4 linked regions of the Homo sapiens genome follow. The protein of the gene in region 4 interacts with the protein of the main gene of each other region in a biochemical or structural test. Each region holds a gene or a part of one and is shown on either strand. Other genes may lie near its edges.

The links.
Region 1: of the proteins of LIG1 (region 4) and EHMT2, one has a biochemical effect on the other in vitro, tested with the Homo sapiens proteins (3 studies listed by BioGRID).
Region 2: of the proteins of LIG1 (region 4) and EHMT1, one has a biochemical effect on the other in vitro, tested with the Homo sapiens proteins (one study listed by BioGRID).
Region 3: the proteins of LIG1 (region 4) and CDYL2 interact in a test that uses a peptide from one of them, tested with the Homo sapiens proteins (one study listed by BioGRID).

Annotation. Positions count from the first base shown.
Region 1 is NC_000006.12:31,880,680-31,887,703, forward strand, and holds part of EHMT2 (histone-lysine N-methyltransferase EHMT2), read right to left. Parts: intron 6,981-7,024; coding exon 6,898-6,980; intron 6,423-6,897; coding exon 6,316-6,422; intron 6,219-6,315; coding exon 6,096-6,218; intron 6,004-6,095; coding exon 5,902-6,003; intron 4,377-5,901; coding exon of another isoform or gene 4,338-4,376; coding exon 4,233-4,337; coding exon of another isoform or gene 4,212-4,232; intron 4,121-4,211; coding exon 3,966-4,120; intron 3,881-3,965; coding exon 3,713-3,880; intron 3,526-3,712; exon of another isoform or gene 3,272-3,525; coding exon 3,127-3,271; exon of another isoform or gene 2,761-3,126; coding exon 2,683-2,760; exon of another isoform or gene 2,331-2,682; coding exon 2,215-2,330; exon of another isoform or gene 2,107-2,214; coding exon 2,020-2,106; exon of another isoform or gene 1,994-2,019; intron 882-1,993; exon of another isoform or gene 717-881; intron 443-716; exon of another isoform or gene 414-442; coding exon 335-413; intron 170-334; coding exon 1-169. UniProt on the Homo sapiens protein: Histone methyltransferase that specifically mono- and dimethylates 'Lys-9' of histone H3 (H3K9me1 and H3K9me2, respectively) in euchromatin.
Region 2 is NC_000009.12:137,810,981-137,818,004, reverse strand, and holds part of EHMT1 (histone-lysine N-methyltransferase EHMT1), read right to left. Parts: intron 6,545-7,024; coding exon 6,390-6,544; intron 5,000-6,389; coding exon 4,832-4,999; intron 4,620-4,831; coding exon 4,475-4,619; intron 3,575-4,474; coding exon 3,497-3,574; intron 2,059-3,496; coding exon 1,943-2,058; intron 567-1,942; coding exon 480-566; intron 1-479. UniProt on the Homo sapiens protein: Histone methyltransferase that specifically mono- and dimethylates 'Lys-9' of histone H3 (H3K9me1 and H3K9me2, respectively) in euchromatin.
Region 3 is NC_000016.10:80,626,590-80,633,613, reverse strand, and holds part of CDYL2 (chromodomain Y-like protein 2), read left to right. Parts: intron 1-377; coding exon 378-595; intron 596-7,024.
Region 4 is NC_000019.10:48,167,326-48,174,544, forward strand, and holds the start of LIG1 (DNA ligase 1), read right to left. Parts: upstream 3,020-7,219; 5' UTR 2,916-3,019; intron 1-2,915. Other genes in the region: uncharacterized protein ZSWIM9, read left to right, coding at 3,632-3,703, 4,469-4,752.

The sequences.
Region 1 (7,024 bases), on a different chromosome or scaffold from region 4:
CCTCCCCAGTCCGGATGTCTCGGGAACTGAAGAAGGCGATGCGTGGAAATCGCAGGTCTTGGTGCAGCATGAAGACCCGGACGGGAATGATGTTGGGGTCACACAGGTGGTTGATGAAGCGGCTGATGTTGCCATAGTAACGGGCATCTATGCAGTACACCTCTCCATCCTGGGGCAGGGGGATGGCACTCTTCACATCTCCCCCGACCCTGCTTGCCCTCCCCACCCACTGACTCCCCAGTCCCTCCTCCCCAGGTTTCCATTTGCTGACTTCCCAGAGGCTCCTGAAAGCCAGCCCTGGGGAGCAGCAGGGTAAGGAGGGTCTCCTGCTCACCTTGTTGTCTAAGTCGAAGAGGTAAGAATCATCCTCTCTCACATCAGCCTCAGCATCAGAGATCAGCTCCCCGACATACCTGTGGGACAGGAATCCATGGTTCTGAAGGTGAGTGTGGGCTATTAGGAGGTGGCTCCAGGCCCCATCTCTCTTCACAAGCCTGTGGAATCTGGAATGGGCAGGGCTGGCAGGTGTGGGGAAGGGAAGGCCTGGAGCAGCAGTGGTGGGCAAGTGAAAGGGCAGCATTCCAGCCTTGACAGAGGAAGCCTTCAGTCAGCACAGAGACAGACAACAAGCTCTGTGGTTAAGGGGATTAATGTGTAGGGGCAGTTGGCCTGGGTGGGGAAGTTCGGGTTTGGACACAGAGAGGTTTGTGTTCCAGGAGCCACCCGGCAGGAATGGGCGATATGGAACAGGAGAGGGGCCAGGACTGCAGGAAGAGCCAGAGGTACAGGAGTGGCAAGGAACTCAAGGCATGATTCGGGGCAAGAGCACCCACACATATCTGGACACCAGAGGGAGGAGAGGAGCCAGCTATCTAAGGAGGGTGAGCAGACATGGGAGATTCAGACACACGGAGAGGACGTGGGTGGGAAGTGACTGTCAAGAGACAGCTTCAGCAGAGTGGGAAGGGCAAAGGCCGATTTTGGCAGGGACAGGCAGTGAGTGGATGGTGGGGAAACTGAGGCCCAGCAGGAAGGGGCTGCTTGCCAGAGAAGTTGAGAGATGACATGATGGAAAGAAACTGGATGGTCTGTTGAACAGGCAAGTATGGTTAGAGGACTATCTTTTTTAAAGGCCAAAGAATGGTCAGGCACGGTGGCTCACGCCTGTAATCCCAGCACTTTGGGAGGCCGAGGTGGGCGGATCATCTGAGGTCAGGAGTTGGAGACCAGCCTGGCTAACATGGTGAAACTCCGTTTCTACTAAAAATACAAAAAATTAGCCGGGTGTGGTGGTGCGCACCTGTAATCCCAGCTACTTGGGAGGCTGAGGCAGGAGAATCGCTTGAACCTGGGAGGTGGAGACTGCAGTGAGCCAAGATTGTGCCATTGCACTCCAGCTTGGGCAACAAGAGTGAAACTCCGTCTCAAAAAATAAATTAAAAAAAAAAAAAAAAAAGAGCCAAAGGAGACTAAAGTAAGATTGAGGGTTGTGGGATGGCAGCCAAGAGAAAGGGGGAGATTACAGATGCTGGGCAGAGAAAGAACTGATGGAGAGGGACAGGCCCCTGAGGAGGTGGACAGATAGGTAGCTGTTATCACCTCCACTCTACAGACAAGAAAAATAAGGCTCAAAGAGGTTAAGTAACTTGGCCAAGAACATCCAGAAGCAGAGAGGGGCTCAAACCCAAGTCTGTTTGTCTCCCAAACTGGCACTTTCTCCAGCTAGGAAGGGCGAGGAGGGGGTGGAGGGGAAGGTAGAGGGTGGAGGTGGAGGGGAGGGAAGACAAGCTCTGTGGTCTGGGCAGAGTGGAGGCAGGTGCCATTCTCAGCTGGGGGGATGGGGGTCAGAGGCGGCTGGCTGCTCAGCTGCAGGAATAGGGGTCAGAGGAGGCTGGCTGGAGAGTGGCCAGATGGAGACATGTGACTCATCAGGGCAGATGGCTGAGAGGGAGGCCTGGCAGTCAGCAGTGGCCATGTATCCCCTTCCCACCAGGTGTTAAGGTGCTCCCGGTGACTTACTCGCAGATGAAGGTCCCCTGTGGGATGGTCTGCAGGGCGCGGACCCCCCAGCCCATCTTGGCTGTTCGGTAGAGCTGTAGCCGCACCCTGGGGGTAGGAGAGATGGCGCTGTTGGGTGGAGGCCCTGGAAAAGCCCCAGGGGCAGGGAGGAAAGGGTGAGGTGGGGAGAGGGTGGGCTGTGGAGCAGGGCCTCACTTGATGCCACTCTGTACGACCCGGTTCTTGCAGTTTCTCCAGCATGAGCACGCCTGGTTACACTCGAAAATCAGCGGAGGCTCAATCTTGTTAAATTCCTGGAGCAATCGCCCATCCTAGGGTGCGGAGGGGAGGATAGTGGTTTCTCTGTGGGGCCCACCTCAGCTGCCCACCCAGGAACCCCAAGACTCTACAGAGACAGGGAAGTTGGGGTTGGGGAGGTCACACAGGCTCTGAGATCCGAGAGCACGAAATGCAGGAGCATCATCCCTGGTTTGCATAGACCTGGGCACACGCCCATCGCTGTCCCAGCCACATCCCAGGATTCCCAGGCCTTGCCCAGTCCTCTCAGTCACTTCCCCCACAGGGTAGGAGGTGAGGGACATGGTCCCAGGGAGCTGGTTTATTGGAGGCTGGCTCCTCTGAAGGAGGGGCCGGGTGTCTGTGGCCAAGGCAAGGGGCACGCACCTTGTCATACCAGCACCGGATGCTGAGCTGGCCGCACAGGCAGTTGGAGCTAGAGCAGTCGTCCACACACGTGCAGTGCTGGGGCGAGGAGGCAGAGGTCAGCTCAACCCCATGATCGGTCTGGGCCCCTCTACTCTTGATGCCCCCTGACCCCCTAACCACTGTCCTTTCTTTGGGGTCCATGTGTTACAACAGTGGGTGGTGATGGTCCTAGGGTGACGGGTAATCAGTATGGTGGTGTCCCCAGGGCTACTGGGAGCTCATATGATACCTTGCTGTGACCTAGGAAAAGGATCCCTCCCCTGGTGGGGATGCGACCCCACACCAGGGCTCCCTTTCAGCCAACCCTTCCTTGGCCAGGTGCCTTTGCTGGTTTGAAGCTTGTCCAACTGTACTTGGCAGCTCTCGGTGTCCTTTTGGGGAGGCCCCGGGCCCCCTACTCACCTGCAGGTGGGTGATGTTGCGATCGATGTTCATGGTGGACGTCTCGCAGTTCTCTGAGATGTACTTGTAATCCTCAGGGCAGGGCTCCCCATCCACACCGTTGACACAGGGAATGGGCACGTTCTCATAGCCCCGAGCCACGTCCCTGCAGAAGACGGGAAGAAGGGGCTGGGAAGCTGGAAAAGGGGGTGAGGAGCTACTCCAGGTATAAGGAAGAGAGTTGGGGAGGTTCCTGGGGCTGGGGGCAGGGGAGTAAGGTTGCCAGGTAAGATGCAGGACAGCGAGTTAACATAGAATTTTAGATAAACAAGAAATAGCTTTTTAGTATGTCCCAAAAATTACACAGGACATTCTCACACTAAAAAAGTATGCATCTGTGCATCTGAAATTCCAGTTTAACTGGGTGTCTTCTATTTTTATTTGCTGTATCTGGCAACCCTAGTGGGGAGGGGGCCTGTGGGTGGTTCTGGGGATTCAGTGGTGCATGGGGAGGGGTTGGGGAATGTTGTGAGGATGCAATGGAGCCTGGGGAGGGTATGGGTGGGGAGGAGGTGGTCTTGGGTGCAGAGAGGGGCCCAGGGCTCACCGGCAGATGATCTTCTCTGTGCGGATGGCCCGATTTCCCACCCCAAGTCGGAGCTTGCGGTTGAGTTGAAGCGCAAACCACACGTCGGAGCGCTCGGGAGTCAGGTCCCATGCTGTGTCCCCCTCTTTGTTCCGCAGCTCAGGGTTGGCCCCACGTGACAGGAATAACCTGAAGAGGGGACAGGATGCCCAATGCAGGGTCTGAGGCTGCAAGAAGTGGGGGCAGGGGCATCAAGGGCGGGGCAGGGGCTCACAGCACGCAGTCATGGTAGCTCTCCCGAGCTGCGATGTGCAGGGGGGTGTCCCCATGGTAGTTGACAGCATGGAGGTCACAGCGCGCATTCAGAAGGACTTCGGCGATGGCGGCGCTGCCCGTGAAGGAGGCCCAGTGCAGGCAGATGTTCTCCTCCTGTGGAGGTAGGAGGGGAACAGATGAGGTGCAGGCAGCTGGGCCCTTGAATCCAGCCTCCACCTTGCTCAGGGGCCTGGGGCTGCCCTACCTCAACCAAACGCTCACTCACGTTGTCAGTGAGGGTGACGTCGGCGCCCCGCGTCAGTAGCATGCGGATCACCTCGATGTGCTTGTGCTCTGCAGCCCAGATGATGGGCGTCCACCCCCCACTGTCCTGTGGGTGGGAAGGGAGTGAGGGTGGGGGCAGCTGGCCCTGCTCACCAAAGCAGCAAATGGTCAAGATTGGCTGTGTGTGTGAATCCCAGCTCCACCATTCACAAGCTGTGGGACCCTGGGTAAGTCACTTAACGTCTCTGGGTCGCAGTTTCTTCATCTAAAAAATGGGACTAGTAGGGTCGGGCGCGGTGGCTCATGCCTGTAATCCCAGCACTTTGGGAGGCCGAGGCGGGCGGATCACGAGGTCAGGAGATGGAGGCCATTGTGGCCAACACGGTGAAACCCTGTCTCTACTAAAAAATAGAAAAAATTAGCTGGGCGTGGTGGCAGGCGCCTGTAGTCCCAGCTACTAGGGAGGCTGAGGCAGAATGGCGTGAACCCGGGAGGCGGAGCTTGCAGTGAGCCAAGATCGTGCCACTGCACTCCAGCCTGGGCGACAGAGCAAGACTCCGTCTCAAAAAACAAACAAACAAAAATGGGACTAGTAGCGTCTACCATCTGATGCCAGAGAGAAAATAAAGTAATTGTTCTCTTTCCAAAAAATACAGCCAGGAGCTGGTCATGGAGGTGCATGCCTGTAGTCCCAGCTACTCATGTGACTGAGATGGGAGGGTTGCTTGAGCCCAGGATTTCGAGGCTGCAGAGAGCTATGACTGTCTGTGAACTGCTACTGTACTTCAGCCTGGGTGACATAGCAAGACCCTGTCTCTTAAAAGAAAAAACGAACAAAAATTTCCTAAGTCTGCCCACTCAAAAGTCCTAGAAGCAGCGACAACCCAATAACAATAAACACTCCTAGGAACATAGATTGTATTCTCTAAAAAATGCTTCTGGCCGGGCGCTGTGGCTCACGAGGTCAGGAGTTCAAGATCAGCCTGGCCAATATGGTGAAACCCCGTCTCTACTAAAAATACAAAAATTAGCCGGGCATGGTGGTGGGCGCCTGTAATCCCAGCTACTCGGGAGGCTGAGGCAGGAGAATGGCGTGAACCTGGGAGGCGGAGCTTGCAGTAAGCTGTGATCACGCCATTGCACTCCAGCCTGGGCAACAGAGTGAGACTCCGTCTCAAAAAAAAAAAAAAAAGTTTCCCATAAAGGAAGCAGAGTTTCTTAGAGAAATGGTGGATTCTGAGTTGGGGGCAGGAAATGTGCTGAAAGGTCAGGAGGCTCTCAAAGGCCACTGGGCCACTGGGTCATGTCACAGCCACAGAGGCCTCTTAAAGGGGCTTCTTCTGGACAATGATGGAATAATTCAAAGACTGAGAAGAATGCCAATAAATGACTAAAACACATCCAATGTATGACAACCCAAGAGTTAATAAAAAGCCTCACTGGACACTTTCAGAGATTAAGACAGGAACTGATTATTCTGAAACTTGATAAAGAGAAAGAAACGAGAAAGAAAAGAATGAAGAGAAATACAAATGAGGAAGAAGAAAGCAATGAGGACAGACACGAGCAGTGTGAGGTCAGATGTAGGAAAGGCGGCCCAAAGCCTGAGGCCAAGCCAAGGAACCCAGGCACCAGGGACCCAGAGGGGCTGGGCTGGGTGGGCCGCTGACCTGGGCGTTGACGTCCACCTGTCCTGTGCTCAGCAGCAGGCTGACCATCTCCAAGTTCCCGATTTTGGCTGCGTGGTGGAGGCAGGTGGAACCGTCCTCCTCCTGAGGGAGACACGGGCAAATGAGCCTTTGGGCTGGCACCCCAAACCTGGTCCCTGACTCCGGGGGCCACGCCCTGCTGCCTGCGCGCACACCTTGCTATAGACACAGCCACCACGCTGCACCATGTAACGGGCTACCTCCAGGTGGTTGTTCACCACGGCCTCCATCAGTGGCGTCCGCTGCTGTTTGTCCACTGCATTTATGTTGGCTCCAGCCTGTGAGGGGGCAGGAGGGCTGGCACCAGGGAGGCATGGGGCAGGGGAGGGGCCTAAGGGCCTGGTGAATGAGGCATGGGGCCGGGCCCGTGCTGACCTGCAGCAGCACATGGCAGATCTCCACGGAGCCCTTCTGGGCGGCTGCATGCAGGGGCGTGCGCTTGCTCTGCTGGTCGCTCTGGAAGTTGGGGTCCAGGTTGTCCACTGCGGGGAGAGCCCGCCACACCGGGAGAGGGAGGGACAAGTGGTAAGCAAGCTAGGGGGCAGGTGGCACTTCTTTCAGGAAGGCTTCTCAGGGCCCCAAGCTGGATCAGGGCCCCTCCTGGCATTCTCCGAGCTTGCCTCCACCACAGCATTTATCAGAATAAGGAGTCAAAGGCATCAGCTCTGCCTGAATTCAAACCCTGCCTTGCTTCTCAGTACCACTGTGCACTGTGCAAGGTCCCTAACCTCTCTGTGCAAGCCAAGGCTAACAGGTATAAGCACTCAGAACAGGACCCAGCACCTATGAGTCACCACATCCCCATCGTTATGGGTTACATGTGTCTTTTCCCCACCACACTAAGTCCTTCAGGGCAAGGACTGTGTCCTTCACGACTGTACTCCTGGCCCTGTACCCAGTGCCTGGTATATACATGAAGCTTGGTCAAGGTCTGCTGAAGGAATGGGTGGCACTCACACAGCATCAGGATCACCTTCTGCAGCTCGCCCTGCTTCACGGACAGGTACAACTGCCGAGGGTGGAAACGGAGCTTCTTCCGCCTGCCAAGGGAGCACGGGAGCGGGGAGAGAAGGGGAGCTCCTCA
Region 2 (7,024 bases), on a different chromosome or scaffold from region 4:
ACAAGCACAGCCCAGACTCCGCAGCCACAGGGAAAGAGCAGGGCACACCAGAAGAACATGCAGGGAACATGTTTAGAGAGGTGTGCCCAGGGTTGAACTGGGGTTTCAGCTGAGGGTCCGGAGGATGATGATAACGATACCGAAAGCTCTGCGTCTGCGGTCTGGTACCTGAGAACCCAGAATGGTCCTCCCCTAGAGATGACTGCCCATGCTGGACCACGCCTTCCTAACTGGACCACGCCTTCCTAACTGGACCACGCCTTCTTAAATGCACTCCTGGGCTGGTTACGGGCAGCAGCAAGAGGACTGAGGACAGCACGAGCTTGGTTCTCGGGGCCAGGGTCTCTGTGGCCCCCACCCCACGCTGCTGTACGCCAGGGATGTGCCTGCTCCCAGAGGGGCTTCCTGAAGTACAGACACAGATGGGCCTCCGTCCCAGAAATGACACCAGGCTTGGGGTGACCCAGGGACTCACTCACTCGCAGACAAAGGTGCCTGGTGGGATGTCCTGCAGGGACCGCACGCCCCAGCCCATGTCCCGCGTCCGGTAGAGCTGCAGCCTTGCCCTGAAAAATAGAGAGTAGTGGTGAACCCAGGCCACAGCCTCAGCCTGTTGCCACAATGGTCAGCAAAAGCCAGCTGGTGCCACGTCACTGAAATGAGGAAGAAAACTGGTTCTGTATCCGAAGCGTTCGATGCTGCAGGCACCTCACAGACACGGCATCTCGCACTCTCAGGGAGCCAAGAACCCGGGGATCAGCCAGGAGCACCCCAGCCCACAACCTCGGCAAGTCACTGGTCCTGGCCGTGGCTCGGTGTCCCCATCTGTAACATGGGGACAGAGCTGGGCCTGGGCCACTAGGCACTGTGAGGGGCAGAGGTGCTAATACTAGAGAAGCCTATAGCTGGACCAGGCTGTGGTGACACCTGCAGCCCAGCCTGCTCCCGACAAGGAGCCCACAGGCCCCTCAGGGCTGGGGGAGGGTGGCAGGGGAGGTGGCGGTCGAGGGTTTCTCAGGGCTGGGGGAAGGTGGTTGGGCAGGCCTGGGGGAGGGTGGCCGGGTAGATCTGGAGGAGGGCGGCTGGGCGGTCCTGGCATGTGGGCCTCTGAGGAGCCCTCAGAACCACGTGCCTCGCGTCTGCCCATCTGGCATGTGTCCCGTGTCTGCCTCGCGTCTGTCTGGCGTGGGTCCTCACCACCAGGCCTTTCTACCATACCAAGGACAGAGACTGCCTTTCACCATGAACCAAGTTTATCGAGGTCACAAAAAAGTCAATACTATAAAAATGAGTGTTCAGCTAAATTTAAGTGTGCATAACTTTCCCTTATGACTCAGAGGAGCTTTGACTTCTCCAATCTCGGGCACATTTGCGGAGGAAATGCTCAAGACCAGAATCCAGGGAAAGGAGACGCAGCTGCTGGGCGGTCAGGGGACCAAGCCCAGCTGGGGAAGGGCGCTGGGCAAGCCTTACTCCATGAGCGTCCTGAGCAACCCAGGAACAAGGAGTCCACGCAGCCTGAGAAGCGTTGGGACATCACCTCACTGTTAGGGAAGCCCAGAGAACAGAGAATATTTAGAAAATGACTGGAGTATTAAAATAGAACTACGACAGCCCTAACCTGTTGAAGAATGTTCGCATGAACTCGGTAACAAAGGTAATTCTTAGGCCAAGTCCGTTCCTCTGCTTTTAGCTGGACTGACCCAACAACCTGCTCCTTCTCTCATGCCGAAGTCTGTGCTGGGGGAAGCATGACTCGTGATTTATGGCACAAGTGACATTTCTAGAGGATAAAGGGCTCAGGTAACTTGTCGGCTCTATCTGCAAACACACATGTGCGTGCATCCAAACACGTTAAGTTCTTGTCTGTCGGGGTGACCTCCGTGCTAATACGTGCTAATACGAGCAGAATGTGGGGCTCCGGCAGGAAGCTGCCTCTCACCTGAGACCATTCTGTACGACGCGATTTCGGCAGTTCCTCCAGCAGGAGCACGCGTGGTTGCATTCGAAGATCAAGGGAGGCTCCGCCATGTTGAACTCTGGCAGGAGCCGGCCATCCTGTGGACAGATGAGCAGCAAGGGCCCAGCAGAGGTTACTCACTCTTTAATTGAACTGACATCAACCCATTTCTACTAAGTGCCCAGTGTGGCTTAAACGGACATAAAAACGATGGTTTCTGGCCAAACTTGAACACCCACCTAGGGAAAAACTCCATGTGTACGGTTTGGATGAGAAGCCTCCACCCAGATGCCCACACAGGTTGTGGAGACCCCCTGGAGCGCTCCCCTAGGCCCAGCCTGGGGCCAGCTTCTGTCCACCCAGGGCCTTCCCAGCCCCCAGCCTGGGCTTCTCCAGCCTCACCGAGGCTGCCAGCTCCTGGGTTGCTCTGCTTTCTTCAGCTGGTTGGGGCCTCCTGCACCCTCCTGCACTCCTGGCCTCCTTGCCTTGCAAATCCTCAACTGTGGAGGGACCCAGCCCTCTGCTCCCCTTTCTACCCCCCTGAAGCCAGGCCAGGTACAGCAGCACTGGGTGCAGATGCTCCCCCAGGGCTGTGTGAGCTGAGGCGCGGGGCCCAGGGCTGCCCAGGCACACTCTGGCTTGACGGCTTCAGGGGCTGCTCTGAACAATTAGGGCGCTCCTCAGAACATTCCTTCCTGCGCCCCCTCAGCAACACTGTCCACCTGAAAAGACACCACTCGGACATGAGCTTGGTGGCTTTCTGAGCGTACCATCTCCATAGCCCTCACTGGCACGAATCCTTTTCCCATTGGAGCCTCTAATTCAGATGGGTAAACACTTGACCCTCCATGTCCACTCTCCTCCAAAGTCTGCTTCCAGAGGGGACGCCTGTTGCCTCTCCCTGCTCGCGTCTCTTTACCCAGGCCATGCTGGCTTCCGCCCCCACCGTGACCTCTGAACTCGGGAGACCAGGAACTCTCCGCCTCTGCTTAGACATCCCTCCCCTGAATTGCACCCCTGCTAGCCAGGGCTACTCCCCACTCCCGTCTCCTCCTCAGCAGCCTCCAACCTGGGCTCCTCCGAGGACCAGCACCCAACAGAAACTTCCAATCCTGTGTCTCCTCAAGCCCAGCGCCCACACTGATGCTCCCTGTACCCAGCCCGGCAGCACCCTCCCTCTTCACACCCCTCACACTCAGCAAGCACAAGGCACAGCTTACCAGATACACACAACATAAGCAGCACCTCCTCCTGGGGCCAAGCCAGGCTGACGCTGCCCACCCCCGCCACCATCCAGGCAGCCACAAAGGATGCAGACCCCAGCCCCAGGGAATCCGCAGCCATGTCCTCGGCTCACGACCCTGACTCGGGTGCTGGTGCCCGCTGTGCCTCCCCTGCCTGTCACACCCAGCTCACCTCCAACTCCTTCCCGACGCTGCCACGACAGCGCTGGGGTCACAGACGCCTGCACTGTTTTTGCAGACCCGGACCAGCGGCACTTACCACCTGAGCCCACGCACACGAGGCCGCCCTCACCTTGTCGTACCAGCAGCGCATGCTGAGCTGGCCGCACATGCAGTTGCTGGAGGAGCAGTCGTCGATGCACACGCAGTACTGAGAAGAGAGGCGCCGGGGGGTCAGACGTGCAGGCACAGGCCTTCCATTTCCCCTCCCAGTCACAACTACGTCTTCCAGTTCTGTTAACCCTGATTCTGGTAAGTGCTTCTCAAAGGCACCACGTGAGTGTGTGGCCTCTTAGGGAGAAGGCTGTGCAGGCAGAAACATGTCGAGTGCCTGTGGGAGGGAGCTCTGGCTGAGGACCCTGACAGAGGGACAGGGGGCAGGCAGGGCAGCGACGCGGCAGTGGGTGACGTGGGGTGGGTGAAGGGCTGGGCGGCGGCTGCATTTGTGGCCAGATGCTCGATGGGAAAGGCAAGAACACAGAGCCTGACACACCTTGTGGGGCGGGGGGCGGGGGGGGGGGGGGGCCTGGGCAGTGCCCGGCCTGGGAAGAGGAGGGAGCTGCCCACAAGCAGAGCCACAAGGAAAGTGCTCGAGAAGGCGCAAGCAGTGAGGGCACCAGGCTGCATGCACTCGGAGGCTGGGAAAGCTGGCATGTGCTGGACCCATCTCTCCGGGGGCTGGGAGGTGCAGGGATCCAGGTCGTCCTGCAGGCCTCGCAAGGGCTCCTCTCGCCTGTGCCCCCAGCACGAAGCCACACCGGGGCCCCTGAGTGTGAGGTTACAAAAAAGGCACAAAGATGCCTGCCACTGCTTTGGGTCGGTAAGAAGCCTTGGAAGAGCAATGAGAGGGCCCAGGGCTGGGCCTGACAGAACCTTTATCTGCCTTCCAGCTCTTTCACGGGAGGCAACTACAAAGAGAATGAGGTCTTCCTGGGAAGCCCCCCATAAGCCCTCCTGCTCTGAGTGGTGAGAACCCAGGACCCCAGGCTCAAGAAGCTTCTGCCTGTCCCATGTCCTGGCCTGAGTCAGCCCTTCATCTGCCGTCACTCACCTGCAGATGAGTGATATTTCTGTCGATGTTCATGGGGGACGTCACGCAGTTCTGAGAGACGTACTTGTAGTTGCTGGGGCATGGCTCGCTGTCCACGGCGTTGACACAGGGGATGGGGATGCGCTCGTAGCCTCGAGCGATGTCCCTGCCATGGAAAGGACAGGTGTCACCTGGTGGCTGACGTGCTCTGCCCAGGGGGTGGCACAGCGTGCAGTGGGGCGGCTGGCAAACACCTGGCCCTGACAATTTGGACTGCAGCCTGGGGATGTTTCGGCTTCAGGAGCAGCTTTCACCGCAAGTTCCCAAAGCCCTGCTGACCGCTGATTTGCCACAAAGCCGTCCTGGGGCTGGGCTCACCTGCTCACTATCCTCTCCACGGGGCTGGGCCTGTCGGGGGCCGAGTCCTGCAGAGCCTTGCTCATCTGCAGAGCGCTCCACACCTGAGAGTTGAGGCTCGCACACTGCAGGGGCGTCTCTCCTTCCTTGTTCTTTAAGGTGACATCTGAATCCCGAGAAAGAAAGAGGCTAAAAGGGAAAATGTAAGGCCACAAAACATTTAAAGCTGACTTGAAAATGTGATACAGATGAGATTTATAAAATGTCCGTCATCACTAACAATAAAGGGAACACTATTCACTGTGAGATAACTTGAACAAGTCTGCTCAGCAATGACTCTGCAAAGACGGGCTTTAGCTCACCCAGGAACATGATTCCCTTCCTCCTCTCCCACATTCACTGTCAAAGTCAGCAGGCTGTTTTCTTAGCAGGAAGAGTGTAAAATCCAGGGCGGCATTTGATTTTTCTTGGATTTTTCATTCAAATTTACCCTCAAGGATAAGAAGGGAAGCAAGGAGGGAGAGAGGCCAAGCTTGGGCCACGCACAGCGTGAGCAGTCCTCAGTTCCACTCCTGCTCACTGCATCCAGACTGCAGTCATCGTACGTGGAGCTGGGCTTCACACAACCAGATGACCAACCTGGCTGAGCCACCGTGAGATCCACATGTGGGAGGGCACAGCCCCATGTGTAGGGGCCAGGGAGTCACTGGAGGCTGGTGCCTGGAGCACCCACAGTTCCCTGTCCTTCCCCAGCAGCCAAACACACACTCCATCCCAGGCCACCAACAACAACCTGAGTGTGGATGACTTTATGGGATCAAGGTCTCAAGCTTTTTTTGTTTTTTGGGTTTTTTTTGAGACAGAATCTCACTCTGTCGCCCAGGTTGGAGTGTAGCGTCGCAATCTCCACTCACTGCAATCTCTTGCCTCCTGGGTTCAAGCGATTCGCCTGCCTCAGCCTCTGGAGTAGCTGGGGTTACAGGCACATGCCACCATGGCCGGCTAATTTTTGTATTTTAGTAGAGATGGGGTTTCACCATGTTGGCCAGGCTAGTCTCAAACTCCTGACCTCAGGTGATCTGCCTGCCTCAGCCTCCCAAAGTGCTGGGATTACAGGCGTGAGCCACCACCACCCAGCTGAAGGTCTCAAGTTTTAAAAGGGCCCTGAGTGGCGAGTGCCACAGCCCCCAGCAACTCCAGCCCTGGCTGTGGGTGGCACTGCTCCCAGAAGGCACCCTGAGCCTCTCGGGGACTCTGAGCTGGCAGGTCCCTGCTGGGAGCAGGGCTGTTCCCATGCTGCCCCTCAGCCATGTGAGGAGTATCAGGTCTGAGACTCCAACTTGGGAATTTTTTCATGACAATCCTCCCTAACCCAGAAATAAACCACAGCTGATCTCAAACGTGGACTGGGAAAGACACTTCTCTGCGTGTGGAACACCAAGGATGGACTTCCACACGAAGGAACAGAGGGCCTGTGTCCACTCACGCCCCAAGTGTGAACACAAGACTGTCAAGCGGTCTCTCTGGGCGCCCAGGTCAGGTCAGCGCCAGCCCGCGCTGGGGGAAGCACTGCACTCACACGACACAGTCGTAGCGGTTCTCCCGGGCGGCAATGTGCAGTGGCGAGTCTCCGTGGATGTTCACGGCGTGGAGGTCGCACTTGGCAGCCAGCAGGATCTCGGCTATGTCCACGCAGCCGGAGAACGCCGCCCAGTGCAGGCAAATGTTCTCCTCCTGAACAGACACAAGCCAGAGCTCAGTGCAGGCTTCCTGCTGGCTCACAGTGCTGGGGCTGGGCCACAGCAGCTGCAGCCCATGTGCCCGGGGAGAGGCTCTGGAGCATGCGTGGCCGTCCGCAGCAGGGCCAGGTGGAAAGGGTGCCACAGGTCACCGGATGGGAACCTAGCGCCCATCTCAACTCTGGAAGGCACTTCGTTTCATGTTTTGTTTGTTTCATTGTAAAAATAACATAATTATAAAAGTAGCATAATCACAGTAAAGAATAAAAATAGGGAAAAGGTCATCCAGAATTATATCAACCTACACTCAACATATTAACACTTGGAGGCACTTTTCTTTCATGTATTTTTAAAAATTATATTCATTTCCAAGCAGGGGTATAGTCATAGGATAGGATAATGCTTTTGAAAGATTTGAAAAAAGGACGTGCAAATTTGATTAAATTAAAATTTTGGGCCGGGCATGGTGGCTCAC
Region 3 (7,024 bases), on a different chromosome or scaffold from region 4:
GCTGGTCTTGCTCTTATTGATAATTTCCTATGATTCATAGGCATCCACCAGTGGAGAGGGCTGCCTCTCAGGGTGGTCAGTGGATTCCCTGTGGCCAAGGAATCTGAGCAGAAGCTGATATATGGGAGAAGAGAGTAGAGGACCGCACAGGGCCTTCACAAAGAGCCCTCTAGGTCCCCTTCTGAATTTGGAGATGCAGGAATTCAGCCTGTCTCTTCACCTTCCCTCTTCCTAGAACAGAGGGTGGCACAGGGGAGAAGGTGGTGTGTCCCAGCACATCCAAACCTTTCCATTGGAAATCCCAACGTCCTCTGATCACATCCTTCTAGGATCGTGGTCCATTTCAGTTTCTTACATTGTTTATCTGGTTTTGGAAGGCTCTGCTCTGACCAACGGGGGATTGAACCTGCACAGTCCAGTGAAGAGGAAGCTGGAAGCGGAGAAGGACTACGTCTTTGACAAAAGGCTCAGATACAGTGTCCGCCAGAATGAAAGCAACTGTCGGTTTCGAGACATCGTTGTGCGGAAGGAAGAAGGGTTCACGCACATCCTGCTGTCCAGTCAGACCTCGGATAACAATGCCCTGACACCTGAGGTAAGGGGTGGCGGCCAGAGGGAAGGGCAAGCTGGGCTGTGGCTCCTTCTCACTCAGAATGGAATATTGGCTTTCTCCTTCCTTCCATCAGGGAGCTGAGGATGGTAACTAGCGTGCATAAAAACTTGACTGCAGCGCGCAATTTGCTCATCATTTTACATACATTATCCCATTTGATCTTTATGACCGTGTAATGATACCCTCTCATCTTATGGATGAAGACCATGGGGAGAGGGACTCACTGAACTGATCGTGGACACAGACTTAGCCAAGGGGCAGACCCAGAATCCAAACATCACATCTTGGGCTTTTCCAGCTAAACTTTGTTGTCATCAGCATGTCATATTTGTTGGCCGCAGATATAATTCACTCAGTTAATGTATCTCACTCAGTTTATAATACATATATATGTTACTACATATTGTATATATAATTGAGACAGATTGATTTCACATACCATAAATGTCACCCTTTTAAAATGTACAATTCAGTGATTTTTAATATATTCACAAGATTGTGCAAGCATCATCACTACTGAATTCCAGAACATCTTCATCACCCCAAGGAGAAACCTCACCCACATGAAATAGTAACTTCATTCTCCTTTCTCCCATGCCCTGGAAACCACTCATCTACTTTCTGTCTCTGTAGATTTGCCTATTCCGGACAGTTTGTATCAATGGAAACGTGCAGTTTGTAGCCTTTTGTGTCTGGCTTTTTTCACTTAGCATGTTTTCATGTTTCATCCATGTTTTAGTGTGTATCCATACTTCATTCCTTTTATGGCTAAATAATATTCCATTGTATGAATAGACTATATTTTATCTATCACCTTTTCTATTTGTTCGACTTTTGGCTTGTTTCTACTTTTGATTTTTATGGATAATATTTCTACAAATGTTATATACAAGTTTTTATGTGAACATATATTTTCAGGTTTCTTGGATATATTTCTAATTTCTAATATGATTTTCTTGAGTCTATTCCAATTCTTAGAATTGCTGGGTCATATTGCTTACCGTATTTTTCGAGGAACTGCAAAAACTGTTTTCCACAGTGGGTCCCCCATTTTACGTTCTGACCAGTAGTATGTGAGGGTTCTAGGTTCTCTGTATCCTCGATAACACTTGTTACGTCTGTCTTTTTTATTATAGCAATACTAGTGCATGTGAGGTGGTATCTCATTGTGGCTTTGGTTTGCATTTCCCTGATGACTAGTCATGTTGAGCATCTTTTCATGAGTGCATTGGTCATTTATCTCTTCTTTCTATTCACATCCTTTGCCTATTTTTAAAATTAGGTCACTTTTCTTTCTATGGTTGACTTTTAGGCATTCTTTATTTACTCTAGATAGTAAGGCCTTATCAGATACTTGACTTGAAAATATGTTCTCCTATTCTGAGAGTTGATGTTTTACTTTTTTGATAGTGCCCTATGACAAACAAATTTTTAAATTTTGATAAAGTCTGTTTTACTGCTTTTTCTACATTACTTTTTAAATATTAATCATGCTTATGTCTTAGATGAATAAAATAGGGAAACAATGAATACTTAATGCAGTGAGATTGACAACATCATTCAAAATACAGGGTACATGGCAGGAGAAGGGAACAGATTCTTGACGGCACAAAGGTGGGAAGATGCTCCACGAAGCAGCCTTTTCCTACAAGATGCCTGGGGTAGGGCAGTAGAGTGGTAAATGGCGATAACAGTGATGACAGCCACTGAACAGGGGCTCTTTGTTCCTTGTATTTGCTGTTTATCTCATGTCATTTCGTCACCTCCCTTCTGATGTAGGATTGTTATGATCCACATTGTATAGATGAGAAAATTTAGGCTTAAACAACCCAACTGGGCTAGGGTCTCACAGCTTAACCAAGTAGGTGCCAGGAGGGCAGGGGTTCTGTTCTTGCTCGCCCTTTTGTCTCTTCTGTTCATCCCAGTGCCAGGCCCACTGAAGACATTTAACTCCGAGACCCCTTTTTCTGTCCTTGCAATATCCTGTATTCTCTTTTTCATAATAGCAATGGGAGGTTAATGAGAAGGGTATGTTTTGGAGGATGAAGTCAAGGGATGGCCACTCACTCACATCGGGATAATAGAATGACCTAGCATTGTCCAGTGTACCCCGTACCATCAGGGAGGCATAGGAAGTGGGGTGGGGAGGGAGGTGCTGTGCTCTTGAATTTGTGATTGCATTATTATTATGGTTGAAATAGACCCTGGTTCTTTTACGGGGTTGTGGGTGCGGCCATCTGGAATGATTGACAAATGGTGAGGGAAGCACTGTGGCTAAAGCTTTGGGGTTGTGGGGTAGTGGTTGTGTGCTGCCCCTTCTCTGAGCATGGTGTTTTGGGGGCCTCTCCATCCTCCGCCTGTAACAGAAGCATCCCTGGGGTTCTCTGCTGTGTAGACCTCTGTGTGGGATTCAAAGAAGCCCAGAGCCTGCAGTCCACCCCGAAAGCAGCTCTTCATATGTTTATACACCTGGAAACCTCATTATTTTAAGCTCATCATGACATCTGCAGAGACCAGTTTTTCCTAGATTCTTTCTACTTCACTACTTTCTAAAAGCGTGCTCTAAAAAGGCACAGCATTTTCTTTCAAGAAATTGAACACATGTGAAGTCTCCAGTTCATTCCCTCTGTGGAGCAGCCCTGGGTGGTAACTGTTGCCCACTCATCATGGAAAACATGTTGTGCTCGTCTGATTTAAGGTGCACAGGTTCTCACCTCCTGAGCTGCGGGCTTGGTTAATTGGGGTTCCTGCCCTAATCAGTGTCAGTTGGTTACAGAACAGGAGGAAAACAGTCAAAGTTATTGATCTGGTATTTTCAGCTGTCTCAACAACTGAAGGGGATTGAGTATGTGGGTGAGCCAGCTGACTGGGTAAAGCAGCCCGTAATGAAGGTCCTACTGAAATGAAGAGGCTGTGTGAGAGGAGGAATACAGGTTTTAGTCTAGCAGACCTGGCTTCCAATCCTCCCTTCAACTTACCATGCTGTTACCTTGGGAAGTTACTTTGCTGCTCTGAGCTTCCTCCTTTATAGAAATTTTACAGTATTTTGCTGGCAAGATTAGAGATAATGTATGCACAGGAGCCCACAAAGTACCTGGCATATAGGAGGTATGTAATAAATGTTCCCATCATTGTTAATGGGAAGCAGAGGCCATTTAATGTCCACCAGCAGACATTGCCTTGCTTGTGAATGGAGGAACCAGAAGGCGACCACTTTCATGGTTATAATTAAGTTGCTTTTTCTAGTTGTATGTGTAACATTGGTTGGATTGGCCTCATGGGCAGAAATTCATACATTACTGTGTGCATTAAGTAGATTCTGAAGCTAGTGGGTTTGCTGTAATATTTCTCCTGTCTGGGATACAGCAGAGAACCAGGAGATGAACAGAAATGCCCCTTAAGGAAAGAGTCAGTGAAACAGATGACACAGTCTCCTTGATTGAAAGCTTATCCACTTCCCCATTGGGAGAAGACTCCAGGTCTTCCTTCAGTGCCCTTGGCCTCAGCCCACAATCCTACCACTACTCTCAGGAACACAGCAGACATGCAGGAGTCCCTTTTCACACCGCTCTTGTCGTGGCCCCATGTGCAAACCTGTCTCAAGGCCGGTTCACCTTTATTCTTGAATAGCTCTTTCATATGTTTACTTCTATTTCCACCATAACCATTACAGTCCACTACTAGGCTATTTTGTCTGGACTGCTGTAATTAGCCGTCTCATAAGTCTGCCTCCTTTCATGCTTCCTGCCCTGTAATCCATTCTGCATAAGGCAGGCAGAATGATCTTCCAGAAATGCAGCTGTGGCCAAGTCAACCCTTTATACACACACCCCTCCCCAACCAAATGTGTCGATGGCTCCTGATTACCCTGGCTGACAGTCAGAACCCTCAGCGTGGTGCAGTCCCGCCTCATCGTGCAGCCCACCTCACATACCTGTCCTCCTGTACCTCAGTCACCTGGTTTGCTTTCATGCTTACACCTGCCCCGGGGCCTTTATATGTGCTCTGACTGGAACGGGCCTTTCTTCCTCCTTGCTTCACTCACTCTTGCTCTTCCTTCAGGTCTCAGTTCACCCATCACTTGCACAAGTCTTATCACAGTTGTTAGTCTACATGTATTTGTGGGGTGACTTGTTAAATGTCTGATATCCCCCCCCTCCTCCATTAGACTGTAAACTTCTTGGGGATAAAGACTGGCATTCTCTTAATTCAGTAAACATTTGTTAAATTCTTTTATGTGAAAGGGTCTGGACTAGGTGCTGCAAGGGATATAAAGATGGTAAGTATGCTATTTTAGCTCTTGTGGGATTGTATTAGTTATCTATAACTGTAGCAGATTGTTTTAAACTTAGCATTTTAAAACAGCACACGTTTATTGTCTCATAATTGCTGTGGGTCAGGAATCTGGGCATGGCTCAGCCAGATGCTTCCAGCTCAAGGTCTCTTACAAGGCTGCTGTCAAGTGGAGGCTGGGGCTGCAGTCTCACACGAAGGCTCAACTGGAGGAGAATTCACTTCCAAGCTCACCCACGTGGTTGTTGGATGCATCTGTTTCCTGCCATGTGGGCCTCTTCTGAGGGCTACTCATGACAAAGCAGCTTTATTCCCTCAGAGCAAGAACTCCAAGAAAGAGCAAGAGAGGATGATCCTTTTGTCACCTATTCTCCTCCTGAAGATGACCTGCCATCATTTTGGCATCTTCTGTTGAAGCCAGTTGCTAGGTCCAGTCTTCTCTTGAGGGTGGGATTTACAGAAGAGTGTGAATACAAGGGGTTTAAATCACACAGAAGGCAAGATGCAGTAAGGAGGTGCACATTCTACAAGGGAGTTTGTCAGAAGAATCACAACAAGGATTTAAAGTATTCAGGGTTTTGGGAGAAGGGAGAGTATGCATCTAGTCTAGGGTACGGGGAAATCTCCCTTGAAGGTGGTTGCATTTGAGATAGGCCTGGTGTGACTGGATTTCAGCAGGTACAGATGAAGTATAAAGAGAAGGACCCTGATTGATTCCTCTTTTACATCACATTCTAATTAATTTGGTTATCTGGGTGTAAACCCACGCCGGATCCAAAGCTAGAGGTCATAGAGGGGGAGTCTGTTCTCTCCAGCAGACAACTAATAGCAGGTGCAAGTGACAGCTAGGAAGTGCATAATGAGGGCAATGAATGTACAGGACATATTTAGGACTTCAAAATGCATAGCAGTCTGGGACTATTTGTTATAGAATCACATCCCAGAAGCCTCTAAGAAGAATTTTCTGTTATAGGCCAGCAGGTGACCATTGAGAGGTAGTTATATGCATACAGTATATTCTGTTTAAGAAGGAAACAGAATGTGGACTAATTTCGGAACATTTTACTTTAAATGAACCAGTTACATTATTAAATTTGGGGTCTTTCAAGAAGGTAGAATCTTAGCCATCTGTCCAAATTGAATTAGCAACACCAAAAGGAAAGAAAAGAGATATAAACTAGATATAACTTTTTTAAAAATGAAAAACAGTATAGTTTGTACTTTTGTATCAATAAAATGCAAATTTATTTTCAGTTTAATTCATAAATGAGATGGCTGTTTTGTTTGGTCTTTTATTTATTTTTTCTTAACGAATTGAGAAGTAGGTAAGTATGGCCTTAGCCAGAGAAGCTACTCTCTGAGTCATCTATAGAATTTCAGTTCACCTCTTTACAGCAGGGTTTCTTTTTTTTTTTATTTGCCTCTCAGAGAAATAGAGTTCATGTATAGGTGAGAGTATATCTATTTCTGGAGGCAGATGGATTAAAGGACCCACAAGATAGTGGCCTGTGAGCTTTTTTGATGTTCAAAATGAATATCTGTTGCTTATACCCAGATAGGCTGGAATGTGCTTATTCCATCCTTCCAGCAGGGCACAGGGCTGGAGATTCTCAATTCAGATTGACATCCAGCCCTGTTTTTTCCACCAAAATCCTATCCATTAAAAAAAATCATCCAACAGTATAAAGTAGGAGAAAGTAAAGGATGGTTAGCATGAGATTTAAATCATGGTCGTGCCTCTTACTGTTGGTGTGACCTTGGACATCTTACTGCACCTGTCTGAGTCTTCATGGTGTCACTTGCAAGGTTGAGATACCATCTCCTACCTTACCAGATTTTTGTTTGGAATAAAATTCCTGGTGCAATTCCTGGCACTACTAGGTGCTTAAGAAATGGAAGTTCTTTTAAAACTTTAACCTTAAAAAACAGTATTTTCCCAGTATCCCCCTAACTTCCATACACCGTGATGATGCCTGTGGAGTCTTTAATAGTGATCCTTTGGAAGTTTGCTCACTTATCATCTCTTCTGTTAGCCTCTAAGCTTCACCCAGGCACACGCCATGCCTTGTTTTCTATCACTATGTACTTTCTGCTCTTGTTTTAACAATCCAGTGATTG
Region 4 (7,219 bases):
CCAGCTCAGACCAGCCTGGGCAACAGAAATGGTTTTCTTTGACTTTCCCTTCCTTTGCACAGAAATCTTCTTCAACCCATGGGGTCCCCTTTCGTTTTCTGGAATCAGTACTCTCTGTCCCGCACCACACGCCTCTAAGTCTCCACTACTCTCTACAGCCTTGGCCGCCACATGTTGGCACCACAACTCAAACTCAATTTTGGAATCAAAAAACTCAGTAGGCCGGCACTGTGGCTCACGCCTGTACTCCCAGCACTTTGGAAGGCTGAGACAGGCGGATCACGAGGTCAGGAGTTCAAGACCAGCCTGGCCCGCATGGTGAAACCCCATCTCTACTAAAAATGCAAAAAATTAGCCAGGCATGGTGGTGCCAGCCTGTAATCCCAACTACTCAGGAGGCTGAGGCAGGAGAATCACTTGATCCCAGGAGGCAGAGGTTGCAGTGAGCTGAGACTGCACCACTGGACTCCAGCCTGGGCGACAGAGCGAGACCCCGTCTTAAAAAAAAAAAAAAAAAAAAAAAAACAAACAAAAAAGAAACTCAGCAATTTCCAAACAGAGTTTCTCAGGGCCAGTTGGGGAGCAGGAAGTAAGCAATGCTTCAACCAAACAGTTCACACAGAAAGCAGGTTAGGGACTTAGCCACCAAAATCCTGAGGGCAAAGGAGAAAACTATTACGATCCCTCCTGAGTGCTCAACTGCCTAGGTACTTGACATTCTCAATTATACTGACTCTCCACAACAACTCTGTTACAGAAACTAAGGCACAGAGGGGTTTTCAAAGGAACTTAACCTGCATCTATAGTACGTTCCACCCCAGGTCGGCCTGCTCCACAGCTCACCTCTTAACCACCAGACTGAGTTGCAAGGGAAGGAGAAATACATAAGCGTTTACTGGGAAGCCTACTCTATGCCTGACAGGCTGATCACATTCTCAAATACCCTCAATCCTCAAGTCAGCCCTCCAAGACAGGTGAGATCATCCCCACTTTATAGATGAAGGTAATGAGGACAGAGGAACATAGCTGGGGTTCAGGCAAGGCTTCAAAACCCGGTGTGGCTGGCTCCAAAGCCCACGTTCCTTTCTCCTTACCACGGTACTCAAGGCTGGCTTCTCAACTCTGTGTACTGCTGAGTTGGGGGGAACAAACTGGTTGATGCCTCTGGAGGACCACCTGGCGTCTCTATCGGAACGGCAACCCCACTTCTGTGTATTTGGCCCACAGAGACCCTCACAGGTGGACCAAGTGAGGCACAAAGTTACCTGCTGCAGCACTAACTGTAATGAGAGAAGACTGGAAACTGGTGGAATGTCTACCCTTAGGGAACTGGTTCCCTCATTACTGGAATACCATATGGTAGAATATTGTTCAGGGTTAAAATTAAATGAATGATGGATAAAAGGTATAGGAGTTTTTTGGGGGGATGATAAAAATATCCTAAAATCGATTATGGTAATAACTGCACAACTCAGCGCATACACTGAAAACCACTGACTTGTACACTTTAAATGGGCACTTTAAATACACTGAAATACACTTTAAATACACTGAAAACCGCTGACTTGTACATTTTAAATGGGCAAAATTGTACACTTTAAATGGGCAAACTGTATAATTGTGAATTATATCTCAATAAAGCGGTTACCAAAATGAAGAGATAATGACAGGAAAAATATCAAGTAAGGATGAAACAGTACTCAGTAATAAAAAGAAACGAAGCACTGATACAAGCAACAACTTGGGTGGACCTCCAGGGCATTGTGCAGAGTAGAAAAAAGGTAACATCCTAATAATATATGATTCCATTTACATAACAATCTCCGAATGACAAAACTAGAGATGGTGAACACATTAGCGGTTGCCAGGGGCCTGGGGAGGAGTTCTTATGTGGAGAGGGAACTGTTCTATATCACAATTACGATGGGGGTTACACAAATCTATACAAGGAATCAAGCTGCACGGGCACACAGATGCACAATCACACTCACACCACACAAACTGGTGAAAACTGAACAAGGTCTGTAATCTAGTTAACAGAACTGTATTGATGTCAATTTCCTGGTTTCGATATTGGGACTACATAAGATGTCACCATTAGGGGAAGATGGATATACTCTTTTCACAACTTCCTTGAATCTATAATTATTTCAAAATAAAAAGTAAAAACAAGAGGTAAGCTCCATCCCTTTATCAAGCATACATTAGGCCAGACGTCTCCCCATTCAGATGATTCTCCATCTTTTACGAGCCCTTTACCTAGACCTGGACCTTACCACTGACCTCTCCCTGACACCACCCATCTCCCTCCAGTAGGGCCCACTCCTTCCAGGTGATGCTGCTGCCCGCGATTTACCTTCTTCTAGCCCCGCCCCCTCAGCACTTCCAGGTGGCCCCCGCCCCCTCAGCACTTCCGGTTCCCAGCCAGCCCCACCCTTGGCACCTCCCCCTTCCAGGTGGCCCCGCCCACACGCAATCTTTTCCCCGGCCCCGCCCCTTAGCTCCCTTCAGCCCCTCCCCCTCCCAGATAGCCCCGCCCCCTCGGGGGGCCTTCCGATTTCCAGCTGGCCCCGCCCACACAGTTTTCCCCCCCCCGGCCCCGCCCCTCAGTTCCATTTGGCCTCTCCCCTTTCCAGGTGAACTCGCACCTCAAGGCCTCTTCTCAGAGGACCTGTCCAACTGTCTCTGTCTCTCGTCTACCCTCTACCTGGCCCCCCTCCCTCTGGGAGACACCTCTCTGCACTCTCCGGCGGCCCGCAGCCCGCGCTCTTCCGTCTCCACCGCGCTCTCGGCAGCCTCAGCGTCCCCACGCCCACTCCTCTGCAGACACCCCGACATGGCGAAGCATAGGCCCCAAGCATTCGGCGCACCCGCCGCCCTCCGCCTCCCATCTGCTTGCGGACGGCCCCACTTGCCTTGCGTTGGTCCCGCGCGCCGCTGCCCGGGCAACACACTCAGATCCGCCAGGCGCGCCTCTGCAGTCCCAAGTTCGCGCCACGGCATTCGCGCGCAGACGTCTGCGGGCGGGGGCGGGGCAGAGCCTAGGGGCGGGACCTGGGCACCGTCCGCACCGCCGCCGTCGCGCGGAGGACACTGGGAGTCGTAGTCTCCCGAATGGGAGGAGGGCGGGAAAAGGGGTGAAGTGGGGCGAGCCCTCCCGCAGAGCACACTGGGAAAATGCCCGCGCTTTCCCTCGCCCTGGATGAGCGGGTGTGGCTGAGGGTCTGAGGAGTGACTGGCAGGGAAAGAGGAGGAATCGGTGGAAGCGCCCCCGCGAGGCACGGCGGGAAGAGAGGCGGGAGACCGCGCGGGGCATCCCGGGAGCAAGGGCCGGGCCAGGCCTGGGCGCGGGGCATTGTGGGAGGTGGACGCCGCTCCGGGGCGGGTAGGTGAGTGGGGAGGGGCGGGAAGGGTGCACATCTTGGGGAGGGGAGAGGCACAGCTAGGTGGGACGGCGGGGCTGGAAGGTGCCGCAGCGGGCGGGGAGGGGGGGAGTAGGAGGGTCGGGAGCGGGCTGGATGGGGCTGCTCGAGGGGAGACGCGCAGCTGGACGTGGGGGGAGCATCTGGGGTGAAGGAGCCCATCCGAGGACGAGGGGCCATGTCTAGAACGAAGATGCATATTGCGGGGGATGGTGGATGTAACTGGGAGGAGGGGCCCACAGCTGGACTGGGGGCCGCATCTGAGGAGGAGGGGACCACAGGTGAATACTGGTGACACTTCCGAGGAGAACTAGCCACAAGTGGGGCACACACCTGTAGGCGAAGCGTGGATAACTGCATGTGGGGAGTACATCTGGAGATGAGAGTGTCTCAGGGAAGCCCCAGCTACAGCTGCATGTGGCGAGCCATAGGGTCATAATCGGGGGAAGGGGCAACAGCTGCACGCCAGAGGCACATCTGGGGAGTGCGGAGCCACAGGTGCATGAAGCATGTGACCGGGTGAGGGGTCCGTGGCCTGGATGTGGGAGCACATCTGGAGATGGAGCGTCTTTGGAGGGGTTACAGCCAACTGTTGGCACATGGAAGGAGGAGTTCCAGATGAATACGAGAGTTAGAAGTTACTCTTGGGTGAGAGACACAGCTGGAAGGGGAGGAGGTTTTAGCTGGAATTTGAGAACACATTTGAGGAGATGTCCTTAAGGGACATCTGAGCTTAAGGGTCGTATTTTGGGAGGAGAGATTCCAACTGTACCTAAGGGTCACATCTGCGGAGGAGGAGACGAGTTGGAATTAGGAATCAAGATGACAGGCTCCAAGTGAACCAGGGATAAGGCGGTGGGAGGAGGCCAAAGATAGGATGGAGGTTGATATTTATATATTTGGAGAAAAACAGGCACGTCCGACCCCGGGCTACCCACCTCGATAGAGGCACCAGCAACCGACGGGGCAGGCCAAGAATGGAGTAGATGAGATACCCCGGGTGGGAATGGGTCTGATATCCACCTGTTCTCCCCTCCTCCACGCAGGCCCCCAGGATGGAGCGGCCGGAGCCCCCACCCGGCACGGCTGCGGGGCAGGAGGAGCAGGAGCTGCGGGAGCGGGCCTTCTTCTCGTGGGCCGAGTTCAGCCGCTTCTTCGACGCGTGGTGCCAGCAGCGGCTGGCGCTCTTCTTCGTCAAGAGCTCCATGCACCTGGCGCGCTGCCGCTGGGCCAGTGCGCCCCCGCTCTACACGCTCATCGACGTGCTCAAGTACAGCTACGTGCGGCTTGTGTGCAAGGACGTGCGTGCGCCCAGCCGGCCCGCCGTGGGGTGCGTGAACCTGAGCCGCTGTCCTGCTGGGGGGAAGGGGAGCACCGGGGGTGGGTGTGGGTGGGAGACGGGCAGAGAACACCCCACCCAGAGATGCAGAGGGGGAGAGGCCAACTGAGGCAGCCAAATACACCTTGCAGAGAGGCGGGAGTCAAGGAGGGACATGTACTGAGAGAAGAAGAGGAGCTAGAGAGACAAAGATACTCACGGAGCAAGAGATGGTGTGGGCCCGACTTACAGACTTTTTTTTTTTTTTCGAGATGGAGTCTCGCTCTGTCGCCCAGGCTTGAGTGCAGTGGTGCCATCTGCAGCCTCCACCTCCTAGGTTCAAGTGATTCTCCCGCCTCAGCCTCCCGAGTAGCTAGGACTACAGGCACCTGCCATCATGCCCGGCTAATTTTTGTGTGGTTTTTTGTTTTTGTTTTTGTTTTGTTTTGCTTTGTGTTGTTTTTTTGAGACAGAGTCTTGCTCTGTCACTCAGGCTGGAGTGCAATGGCACAATCTCGGCTCACTGCAACCTCCACCTCCCGAGTTCAAGCGTTGTTTCTCCTGCCTCAACCTCCTGAGTAGCTGGGATTACAGGCACGCGCCACCACGCCTGGCCAATTTTTGGATTTTTGTAGAGATGGGGTTTCACCATGTTGGCCAGGCTGGTCTCAAACTCATGACCTCAGGTGATCTGCCCGTCTTGCCTCCCAAAGTGCTGGGATTACAGCCGCGAGCCACTGTGCCCGGCCTGACTTACAGAATGTAATAGAGACTTCGAGAGGCAGAGCGTAAAACACACACACCCCAAGAGGAGAAAATAGTCACGGAAAATTCCAGAAACATGGAGACATGGAGGCAGAGACACCAGAGACAGCCAGGGAAACAGAAGAGCCAGGTTTTGTACACGTGACAAAGACTGGGAGACAGAGACTGGGAGACTGAACTGCAGAGAAGCCGCAGGATAAAGAAAAGGATCCATCTATTCAGTGAATAAGGGGCCAGGTCCCATGCTGTGGGCTGGGGATATTCTAGTTGGAGCGATGGAGTTGGGCAAGAGACAAAAATCCCTGCCCTTCTGGTACTTTCTGACTGGACAGAAAGATTGACGTTAAAAGAACAAGCTCACAGGTAGTTCCCTACAACTGTGCAAAGAGGGGCAGGTGAGAAATCCAGGAGAGCCAGAATCACACCCAGGTGGCCAGGGGTATTTTAATGGACCCCAATTGTATTTTATTTAGTCTTTATTTTTTTGAGACAGGGTCTTACTCTGTTGCCCAGGCTGGAGAGCAGTAGTGCGATCTTGGCTCCCTGCAACCTCCAACTCCTGGGTTCAAGAGATTCCCCCACCTCAGCCTCCCAAGTAGCTGGGACTACAGGTGTGTGCCACTATGCCCACCTAATTTTTGTATTTGTAGTAGAGATGGGGTGTCACCATGTTGGCCAGGCTGGTCTCGAACTCCTGACCTCAAGGAGGCTGAGGTGATCTGCCCACCTCGGCCTCCCAGAATGCTGGGATTACAGGCATGAGCCACCACACCCAGCCAAATTGACCCCAATTTTATTTTACTTTATTTTATTTTATTTTATTTGAGACGGAGTCTTGCTCTGCCATCCACACTGGAGTGCAGTGGCACAATCTCCACTCACTGCAACCTCAGCCTCCTGGGCTCAAGCAATTCTCCTGCCTTAGCCTCCCCAGTAGCTGGGATTACAGGCATGCGCCACCATGCCCAGCTAATTTTTGTATTTTTAGGGTTTCACCATGTTGGCCAGGCTGGTCTTGAACTCCCGACCTCAGGTGATCTGCCTGCCTTGGCCTCCCAAAGTGCTGGGATTACAGGTGTGAGCCACGGTGCCTGGTCTGACCCCAGTTTTAAACAGGGGTTGTTCCCCACACAGTTAGGTTTCCAGCTTCCACTGGAACACCGGAAGAGGTGAGCCCATGTTTCCATTGGCAGACGGCCACCCCTCTTGGATGGGGCTTTGCTGCCCAGGTTTGCCCCAAACCCTGCCACTCTCTGCTGCCTCATCCCTAGCACTGTCTTTTGCTTGTTTTGCCTGCCTGGTCCCAGTAGGTGTGTGAGTTTGAGACCCTTGGTTGGGGAGCTGTAGACAAGAACAGAGTGCTTAAGAACACAGGCTCTGCCTTTAGGCTGCCTGAGACATGCTCCACGACTTCCTGGATGGGTGACTTTGGGCAATGGACTTCACATCTCCAAGCCTCAGTTTTCTCATCCTTTGAAATGGGGTTATCACGATACCCGCCTCATGGGGCCATTGTGAGGATACTGTGAGATCATACATGAGAAAAACACATAACCCTGGTGCCTGGAACATGGGGTGGCTGGTTAAGTGATAGCTGTTACAGGATTCGAGAGCATGGACTCTGGGCCATTGTGCTGCTGATGCTTGGTGGATGCTGTTGAGTGAGTGACTTCACCTTTCTGTGGCCTCAGTTTCCTCATGTGGAAAATGGGAG